Regions from separate parts of the Homo sapiens genome. Here region 1 is linked to region 2. The links come from fine-mapping of genetic effects on gene expression. A gene starts in region 2. The other region holds a variant in brackets. All regions are shown on one strand. Distances are from middle to middle. Region 1 has its middle 31 kb from the start of PABPC4-AS1. Region 2 holds the start of OXCT2 (3-oxoacid CoA-transferase 2).

Region 1 (4,391 bases), 240 kb after region 2:
AATCTCGGCTCACTGCAACCTCCACCTCCCTGGTTCAAGAGATTCTCCTGCCTCAGCCTCCCCTAGCTAGGATTACAGGCATGCACCTCCATACTCGGCTAATTTTTGTATTTTTAGTAGAGACGGAGCTTTGCCATGATGGCCAGCTGGTCTCGAATTCCTGGCCTCAAGTGATCTGCACAAAGTGCTGAGATTACAGGCATGAGCCACCGTGTCTGGCTGATAACTATTTTTAATGTTTTGAGAAACGACCAGACTGTTTGAAGTGGCTGTACCATTTTGCATTCTTTTTTTTTTTTTGAGATGGAGTCTCACTCTGTTGCCCAGGCTGGAGTGCAGTGGCGCAATCTCAGCCCACTGCAAGCTCCGCCTCCCGGGTTCACGCCATTCTCCTGCCTCAGCCTCCCGAGTAGCTGGGACTACAGGCGCCTACCACCACGCCTGGCTAATTTTTTTGTATTTTTAGTAGAGACATGGTTTCACCGTGTTAGCCAGGATGGTCTTGATCTCCTGACCTTGTGATCCGCCCGCCTTGGCCTCCCAACGTGCTGGGATTACAGGCATGAGCCACTGCCCCATTTTGCATTCTTAACGGCAGTGTATGATGTTTCTGATGCCTCTATACCCTCACCAACACTTGTGATTATCCTTCTTTTTTTATTAGACCTATCCTAGTGATGTGAAGTGGTATCTCATTGTGGTTTTGATTGGCATTTCCGTGCTAGTTAATGATGTTGAGCATCTTTTCATGTGTTTATTGGCCTTCTCTATATCTTCTTTGGAAAAATGTCTCTTCAGACCCTTTACCAATTTTTAATTGGATTATTTGTCTTTCTATTGTTGAGTAAGAATTCTTTTGTTTTTTGTTTTTTGAGACAGGTTCTCACTCTGTCACCCAGCCTGGAGTGCAGTGATGTGATCACAGCTCACTGCAGCCTTGACCCTCTGGGCCCAAGTGATCCACCTGTCTCAGCCTTTCAAGTAGCTGGGACTACAGGTGCATGCCACCAGGCCCAGCTAATTTTATTTTTTGTAGAGACAGGGTCTCCCTGTGTTGCCCAGGCTTGCCTCAAGTGATCCGCCTGCCTTCACTTCTCAAAGTGCTGGGATTATAGGCATGAGTCACCACACCTGACCAAATATAGTCAAGAGTCCTTCTTTTTTTATTTTTGTAGTGACGGGGTCTTGCTCTGTTGACCAGACTGGAGTGCAGTGGCACAGTCACAGCTTGCTGTGGCCTCAAATTCCTGGGCTCAAGTGATCCCTCTGTCTCAGACTCCTAAGTAGCTGGAACTACAGGCATGCACCACAATGCCTGGCTAATTTTTTCTTATTTTTTGTAGAGATGGGGCTCTCACTTCGTTCCCCAGGCTGGTCCCAAACTCCTAGCCTCAAGTGATCCACCCGCCTCAGCCTCCCAAAGTACTGGGATTACAGGCGTGAGCCACTGCGCCCGGCCTTTTCTTTCATTCTATAGGTTGTCTTTTCACTTTTTTGATGGCGTCGTTTGAAGCACAAAATATTTTAATTTTGATAAAGTCTAATTTATCTTTTTTTGTCACTTGTACTTTTGGTGTAGTGATTATGAAGATTTACTCCTACACTTTCTATTAAGTATTTTATGGTTTTCTCTCTTACACTGAAGTCTTTACTCCATTTGAAGTTAATTTTTGTGTATAGTGTGAGGAAAGTGGTCCAGCGTTACTCTTTTACATGTGGATTTTCAGTCGTCCTAGCACCATTTGTTGAAAAGGCTAGTTTTTTTCCTGTTTAATTGTCTTGGTATCCTTGGTGAATATAGTTGACCATAAATGTAAGGGTTTCTTCTGGATTCTAAATTATATTTTGTTGATCTGTATGTCTGTTATTAGGCCATTACTACTGTGTCTTAAATTCCATAGCTTTGTAGTAAATTTTTAATTCTGGAAATGCGAGTCCTCCAACTTTGTTTTTCCTTTCAAGATTGTTTTGGTTATCCTGAGTCTCTTACATTTCTTAAGAATTTTGGGATAAGCTTATCAACTCGTATGAAAAAAGCCAGCTAGGATTTTAATACAGATTGCACTGAATGTGAAGAATTTAGGAGTATCATCATCTTAACAATATTAAGTCTTCTGATCCATGAACACAGGATATCTTTTCATTTGTTTAGGTCTTCTTCAGTGTTTTTCAGTAATGTTCTTTGGTTTTCTTTTTTTTTTTTTTTTAATTGGGATGGGGTCTTGCTATGTTATCTAGGCTGGTCTCGAACTCCAGGGCTCAAGCAATCCTGCCACCTTGTCCTCCCAAAATGCTGGGATTATAGATGTAAGCCACCATGCCTAGCGAGTCAGAATTCTTTAAATATTTTAGATACAGGTCTCTTATCAGATGTATAATTTGCAAATAGTTTCTCTCATTCTTTTTTTTTTTTTTTTAGACAGGGTCTCACTGTATTGCCCAGGCTGGAGTGCAGTGGTGCAATCACAGCTCACCACAGTCTTGGAACTC[CT/T]GTACCCAAGTGGTCCTTATGTTTCAGCTTTACAACTAGTTGGAACTATAGGCACACACCACCACACCTGGCTAATTTTAAAAAATATTTTTGTAGACAGCTGTGACTGCACCATTGCACTCCAGCCTGGACAACAGAGCAAGACTCTTCTAAAAAAAATACACACACATATATATATAGCAATTATATTTCTTTTCTTATTTTTGAGACAGAGTCTTGCTATGTCGCCCAGGCTGGAGTGCAGTGGCAGCATCTCAGCTCACTGCAAGCTCCACCTCCCGGGTCCACGCCATTCTCCTGCCTCAGCCTCCTGAGTAGCTGGGACTACAGGCGCCCGCCACCACGCCGAGCTAATTTTTTGTATTTTTAGTAGAGATAGGGTTTCACCATGTTAGCCAGGATGGTCTCGATCTCCTGACCTTGTGATCTGCCCGCCTCGGCCTCCCAAAGTGTTGGGATTACGGGTGTGAGCCACCGTGCCTGGCCGTAGATATAGCAATTATATTTCTATACATCAGCAATGAACAACCTGAAAACAGAATAAAAAGAAAAACAATTATACTTACAATAGCATAAAAAAGAATAAAATATTTAGGAATAAGTTTAAAAGATGTATACAGCTTATACTTTGAAAACCACAAAACAGGCCAGGCATGGTGGTTCACACTCATAATCCCAGCACGTTGGGAGACTGAAGTGGGAAAATCACTTGAGTCCAGGAGTCTGAGACCAGCCCGAGTCAACATAATGAGACCTCATCTCTACAAAAATATATATAATCAATTGTATATTGATTTTGTATTCTGCAACATTGCTAAACTTGTTTAATAGTTCTTTTTTTTTTCTTTTTTTGAGATGGAGTCTCACTCTGTCGCCCAGGCTGGAGTGCGGTGGCACGATCTCAGCTCACTGCAACCTCCACCTCCCAGGTTCACGCCATTTTCCTGCCTCAGCCTCCTGAGTAGCTGGGACTACAGGCGCCCGCCACCACGCCTGGCTAATTTTTTGTATTTTTAGTAGAGATGGGGTTTCACCGTGTTAGCCAGGATGGTCTCAATTTCCTGACCTTGTGATCCGCGCACCTTGGCCTCCCAAAGTGCTGGGGTTACAGGCGTGAGCCACCATGCCCGGCCTGTTTATTAGTTCTAATAGTTTTTTTTGTGGATTTTTTAGGATTTTCTATATGCAAGAGTGTGTCATCTGCAAATAGAAATAGCTTTACATTTTCCTTGCCGATTGGATGCCTTTCATTTCATTTTTTTCACCTAATTACCCTGGCTAGAACCTTCAGTACAATGTTGAATAGAAGTGTCAAGGGCAGATATCCTCGTCTTGTTCCTGACCTTAGGGGGAAAGCATCTTGTCTTTCACATGTAGTTTTCTGTTGATACCTTTTATCAGATTGAGAAAGTTCCCCCTTCCACTCCTAGTTTATTGAGTTTTCATTATGAAAAGGTGTTGGATTTTGTCTACTGCTTTTTCTGTATCTGAGATGATTATGTGGTTTTTGTTCTTTATACTATTGATAATTGTCTATTACATTGATTGATTTTTAGATGTTAAACCAACTTTGCATTCCTGAGATGAATCCACATCTTTTTTGGGTGGCTGTATTTCACTAGATTGTGAGCTCCACCACTGTTAGGGCCAGTGTCCCCAGGGGGCAGGTAGGGGTGGATGTCCCTAAAGTCTGTCTTTATTCTGCTCCTTCACTCCCCTGAGTGTCCCCTCTTCTATTCTGTCTGCAAAGGCAAGGATGGGAAGCCAAGGCAGAAGGTGATCATTGGCAACTGTGGGGAGTATGTGTGAGGCGGCACTCTCTCTGCTCTCCACTCTGCTCTTGCCCCTGCACATCCAGGAAGGAGCTGCCAGCCTCAGAGGAGGCAGCACCGAGGGTGCC
Region 2 (4,391 bases):
CCCTTGTTCATTCCACAGGTGACACTGGGGAGAGCCTCTTTTATGCCAGGCAGTAGGAATACAGAGGCCAAAGTGGGCACGAGATGGGTGTGTTTGAGGCCCGGCAAGGGGGCGCCATGGAGCAGCGGTGAGGGCGGGGGACCCAGGGGCCATTCTGAGTCAGAGTAAACCAGGGCCAGGTGCTGGGGTTCTTAGCGTCATTTATTTTATTTACTAGCAGTGGAGGACGACAGGATCTGATTCAGGTTTTAAAAGAGAACCCTCTGAGATGCCCCCCTCTCGGGGTGGAGCAGAGCTCCCCACCCCTTCCGTGGGCTGCACCCAGTGACTTGCTTCCCGAAAGTGCGGTGTGGACAGGGCGTGGGGGACCTGACGCGCAGCGCCTCAGCCAGGTGAGGAAGGCTCACTGCAGTGACCGGCACGGTGCTAGCATGTGCCCTGGGTGAAAGGGAAGGAGAAGGCCACTGAGCCTCAGAGGGCCCCCTCCGTGAACCCAAAACCCCAGTCCAGCCACGAGAAAACCGTCAAACAAACCCAAAGAGAAGGGCTTTCCGCAGAATACCTGACAAGCGCTTCTCAAAACCGCCAAGCTCATCAAAAAAAAGGGAAGGTTGGGAAATTGGAGGAGCCCAGAGGCACCTAAGAAGACCAGCTCAGTGCATGTGGGGTCCTGGGTTGAGTCCTGGACCAGCAAAAGGTCATTAGGGAGAAGTTATGAAATCCAGATCGATCATGGTGTTTACTTAATAATAAGGTATCAGTATTGGTTCATTAGTTATGAGAAAGGTACCCTGCTAGTGTAAAATATTAGCATTTCCCAGAGGAAACTGGGTCCAGGTGTATGGGAACTCCTTGTGTAGTTTTTTTTTCTTTGAGACAGGGTTTGGCTCTGTTGCTCAGGCTGGAGTGCAGTGGCGCAATCACAGCTGACGGTAACCTCCAACTCCTGGGCGCGAGCGATCCTCCCACCTTAGCCTCTGTACTATCTTTACAAAGTTTTATGTAACTATCAACTGTTGTAAAATTAAAACTTAATATATGCATAAAATAAAGAACCCCCTGACTTCAGTGGAGAGAGCAGACTGAGATGGACAAGAGTGAAGTCAGAGAGACGTGTGGGGGCCCCACAGTGGTCCAGGTGGGCGCTGTGAGCGACTTGTTGGTAGCAGTGGAGATGGAGAAAGATGAGTCGATTTCAGTGTCAGGACATGCTTATAGCTGGCGAGGAGGTGAGGGAACAGGAGGAAGCCTGAATGATGTGTGGTTGGAGCCAGTGGATTTTTTTCAATAGATTTTTCTTTTTGGGGAAAAGATAGATGAAGGGCAGGTTTGAGGTGGGTGGCCAAGGGTTCTCTTTTGGCTGGAATATTACTGACCCCCCTGGGATGTTACTGAGATCACTGGTCCTCATGGAAATGCCATTACAGGGACCGGTGAGTGTGAAGACCCAGGCGAGGGAGGTGCTGGCATGTAAGTGGATTTAAAGCATGGGATGGGACCAGGTCATCTAGGGAAGGAGGGTAGTGATGGAGAAGAAAGAGGGCCTGGCCCAGAGCCCTGGGACCTCCAACATCCAGAGACCTCACAAGGAGGGGCCACAGAGAGCCCACAGAGACCAGCCAGGGAGGGAGCAGGACACCTGGAGGATGAGGTGATCTAGACGCCAGAGTAAAGTGTTTCCAGAAGCAAGGGTTTGTCATTTGTGTCCTGCTGTGGGCACTGAAGGCAAGAACAGAGAAGTGACCAAGGGTTTTGCCATCACAGAGGTTGTTGATGACCTAAATATCCGTGGAGTGTGGGTCTGACTGAGGAGGTGGAGGGAGACAGGCAGTGGAGGCAGGAGACAGCTCTTTCCAGAACCTTTGCTGGGGAAGGGGAGCAGAGACATGGGCTGGGGCTGGAGAGAACCCGGGACAAGGCAGGTCCTTTCCAGGTGAGGAGACGCCTGCACGCTGCTGTGGTGATGCAGTGATTCTGTGCAGAGGGAAGAAAACTGCAAAATTCCGCACAAGTTGGAGCAGGGAGCTGGAGTGGGGGAGGTGGAGAGGGCGGGGGGATGCAGAGGACAAGACGGGGGGCCTCTTCAGAGCAGGGACCCTTCCTGATGGAGGTGAGGGATACTGTCCCCACTGTCGCAGTGAGGGGTGAACCTGAGCTCTGGGAGGCTGTAGTGGGGCAGGCACTCACTCTCCGGGTTGTCACAGGATTAAAGGAGGGTGCTTGGCACAGAGTGATGCCCAGTGAAGGTGTTCATGAGCGTCGGTGTCACCCAGCGGCGCCTGCTCATTGGACACTTGGTGTCTTTAATGAGCTGGGGAAGCTGGGGGGAAGCTTGGGCGGGGTGGTTGGAGTTTGTGTCTGAGGCTCCACTGGGGCAGGAGGGGACCTAGCCTGTGCCCTTCTCGCGGAGCCTGACCTCAGCTCTGTCCTGCGCCCGGGCCTGTGCGCTGGACACGGAGGACTGACTCGGGGGCCCCCAGCCCAGGGCGGAGCCGGCCCCCTCCCTGTTGCGGGTCGCGGGCCTAGCCTAGAGCCTGCGCCTGGCCGGGGAGACCTGCTGGGAGGGAGTGCGTCAGGGCGCGGGCGCCCGCCCTGCTCTGTGACGCGCGGCCCGAGGCGCACGCAGGGCTCACACCACCTGTCCTGGCCTCCGACCCGGGCCGACTATGGCGGCGCTGCGGCTCCTGGCGTCAGTGCTCGGGCGCGGGGTCCCCGCCGGCGGCTCAGGGCTCGCGCTGTCCCAGGGCTGCGCCCGCTGCTTTGCCACCAGTCCCCGGCTCCGTGCCAAGTTCTACGCGGACCCGGTGGAGATGGTGAAGGACATCTCTGACGGGGCGACCGTCATGATCGGGGGCTTCGGGCTCTGCGGGATCCCCGAGAACCTGATCGCCGCGCTGCTCAGGACCCGCGTGAAAGACCTGCAGGTGGTCAGCAGCAACGTGGGCGTGGAGGACTTCGGCCTGGGCCTCCTGCTGGCCGCCAGGCAGGTCCGTCGCATCGTCTGTTCCTACGTGGGCGAGAACACCCTGTGCGAGAGCCAGTACCTGGCAGGAGAGCTGGAGCTGGAGCTCACGCCCCAGGGCACCCTGGCCGAGCGCATCCGCGCGGGGGGCGCCGGGGTGCCCGCCTTCTACACCCCCACGGGCTACGGGACCCTGGTCCAGGAAGGGGGCGCCCCCATCCGCTACACCCCGGACGGCCACCTGGCGCTCATGAGCCAGCCCCGAGAGGTGAGGGAGTTCAACGGCGACCACTTCCTTTTGGAGCGCGCCATCCGGGCAGACTTCGCCCTGGTGAAAGGGTGGAAGGCCGACCGGGCAGGAAACGTGGTCTTCAGGAGAAGCGCCCGCAATTTCAACGTGCCCATGTGCAAAGCTGCAGACGTCACGGCGGTGGAGGTGGAAGAGATCGTGGAGGTGGGGGCTTTCCCCCCAGAAGACATCCACGTTCCTAACATTTATGTAGATCGCGTGATAAAGGGGCAGAAATACGAGAAACGAATTGAGCGCTTAACGATCCTGAAAGAGGAAGATGGAGACGCTGGAAAGGAAGAGGACGCCAGGACGCGCATCATCAGACGCGCAGCTCTGGAATTTGAGGACGGCATGTACGCCAATCTGGGCATAGGCATCCCCCTGCTGGCCAGCAACTTCATCAGTCCCAGCATGACTGTCCATCTTCACAGTGAGAACGGGATCCTGGGCCTGGGCCCGTTTCCCACGGAAGATGAGGTGGATGCCGACCTCATCAATGCAGGCAAGCAGACGGTCACGGTGCTTCCCGGGGGCTGCTTCTTCGCCAGCGACGACTCCTTCGCCATGATCCGAGGGGGACACATCCAACTAACCATGCTTGGAGCCATGCAGGTTTCCAAATACGGCGACCTGGCGAACTGGATGATCCCTGGCAAGAAGGTGAAAGGCATGGGCGGTGCCATGGACTTGGTGTCCAGTCAGAAGACCAGAGTGGTGGTCACCATGCAGCACTGCACAAAGGACAACACCCCCAAGATCATGGAGAAATGCACCATGCCGCTGACCGGGAAGCGGTGCGTGGACCGCATCATCACCGAGAAGGCCGTGTTTGACGTGCACAGGAAGAAAGAGCTGACGCTGAGGGAGCTCTGGGAGGGCCTGACGGTGGACGACATCAAAAAGAGCACGGGGTGTGCCTTTGCTGTGTCCCCGAACCTCAGGCCCATGCAGCAGGTGGCACCCTGACGGGACCTGGATCTGGGCGGGGTGGTGCGCTCCTCAGGGCGGGTGCCACCGGGTTCCCCAGGGGAATACATGTCCCCAGCTCTGGGAGGGGTTTGCTACTGGCCTCCTACTTTCCTCCCTAGGTGGACAGTGCTCCTCTAGAGAGCTGCGACTTTAATTAAAAACAACAGG

Evidence for each region. PIP is the estimated chance that this variant, and not a neighbour inherited with it, causes the effect.
Region 1: its variant is fine-mapped to the expression of OXCT2 in spinal cord (GTEx, PIP 0.90).

Annotation. Positions count from the first base shown.
Region 1 is chr1:39,531,747-39,536,137 of GRCh38, reverse strand. It overlaps the pseudogene PPIEL. Among named protein-coding and RNA genes, the nearest start is that of PABPC4-AS1, 31 kb to the left of the region's middle. The variant CT/T (reference allele first, on the strand shown) is at 2,491.
Region 2 is chr1:39,769,531-39,773,921 of GRCh38, reverse strand. OXCT2 (3-oxoacid CoA-transferase 2) reads left to right here and starts at 2,574. Exons shown (of 1, transcript NM_022120.2): 1 at 2,574-4,391. The coding sequence starts at 2,667. The coding sequence ends at 4,220. All of the region lies in intron 3 of BMP8B (bone morphogenetic protein 8b), which reads left to right. RefSeq lists enhancers at 1,855-2,527, 2,528-3,201 and a silencer at 2,542-2,641.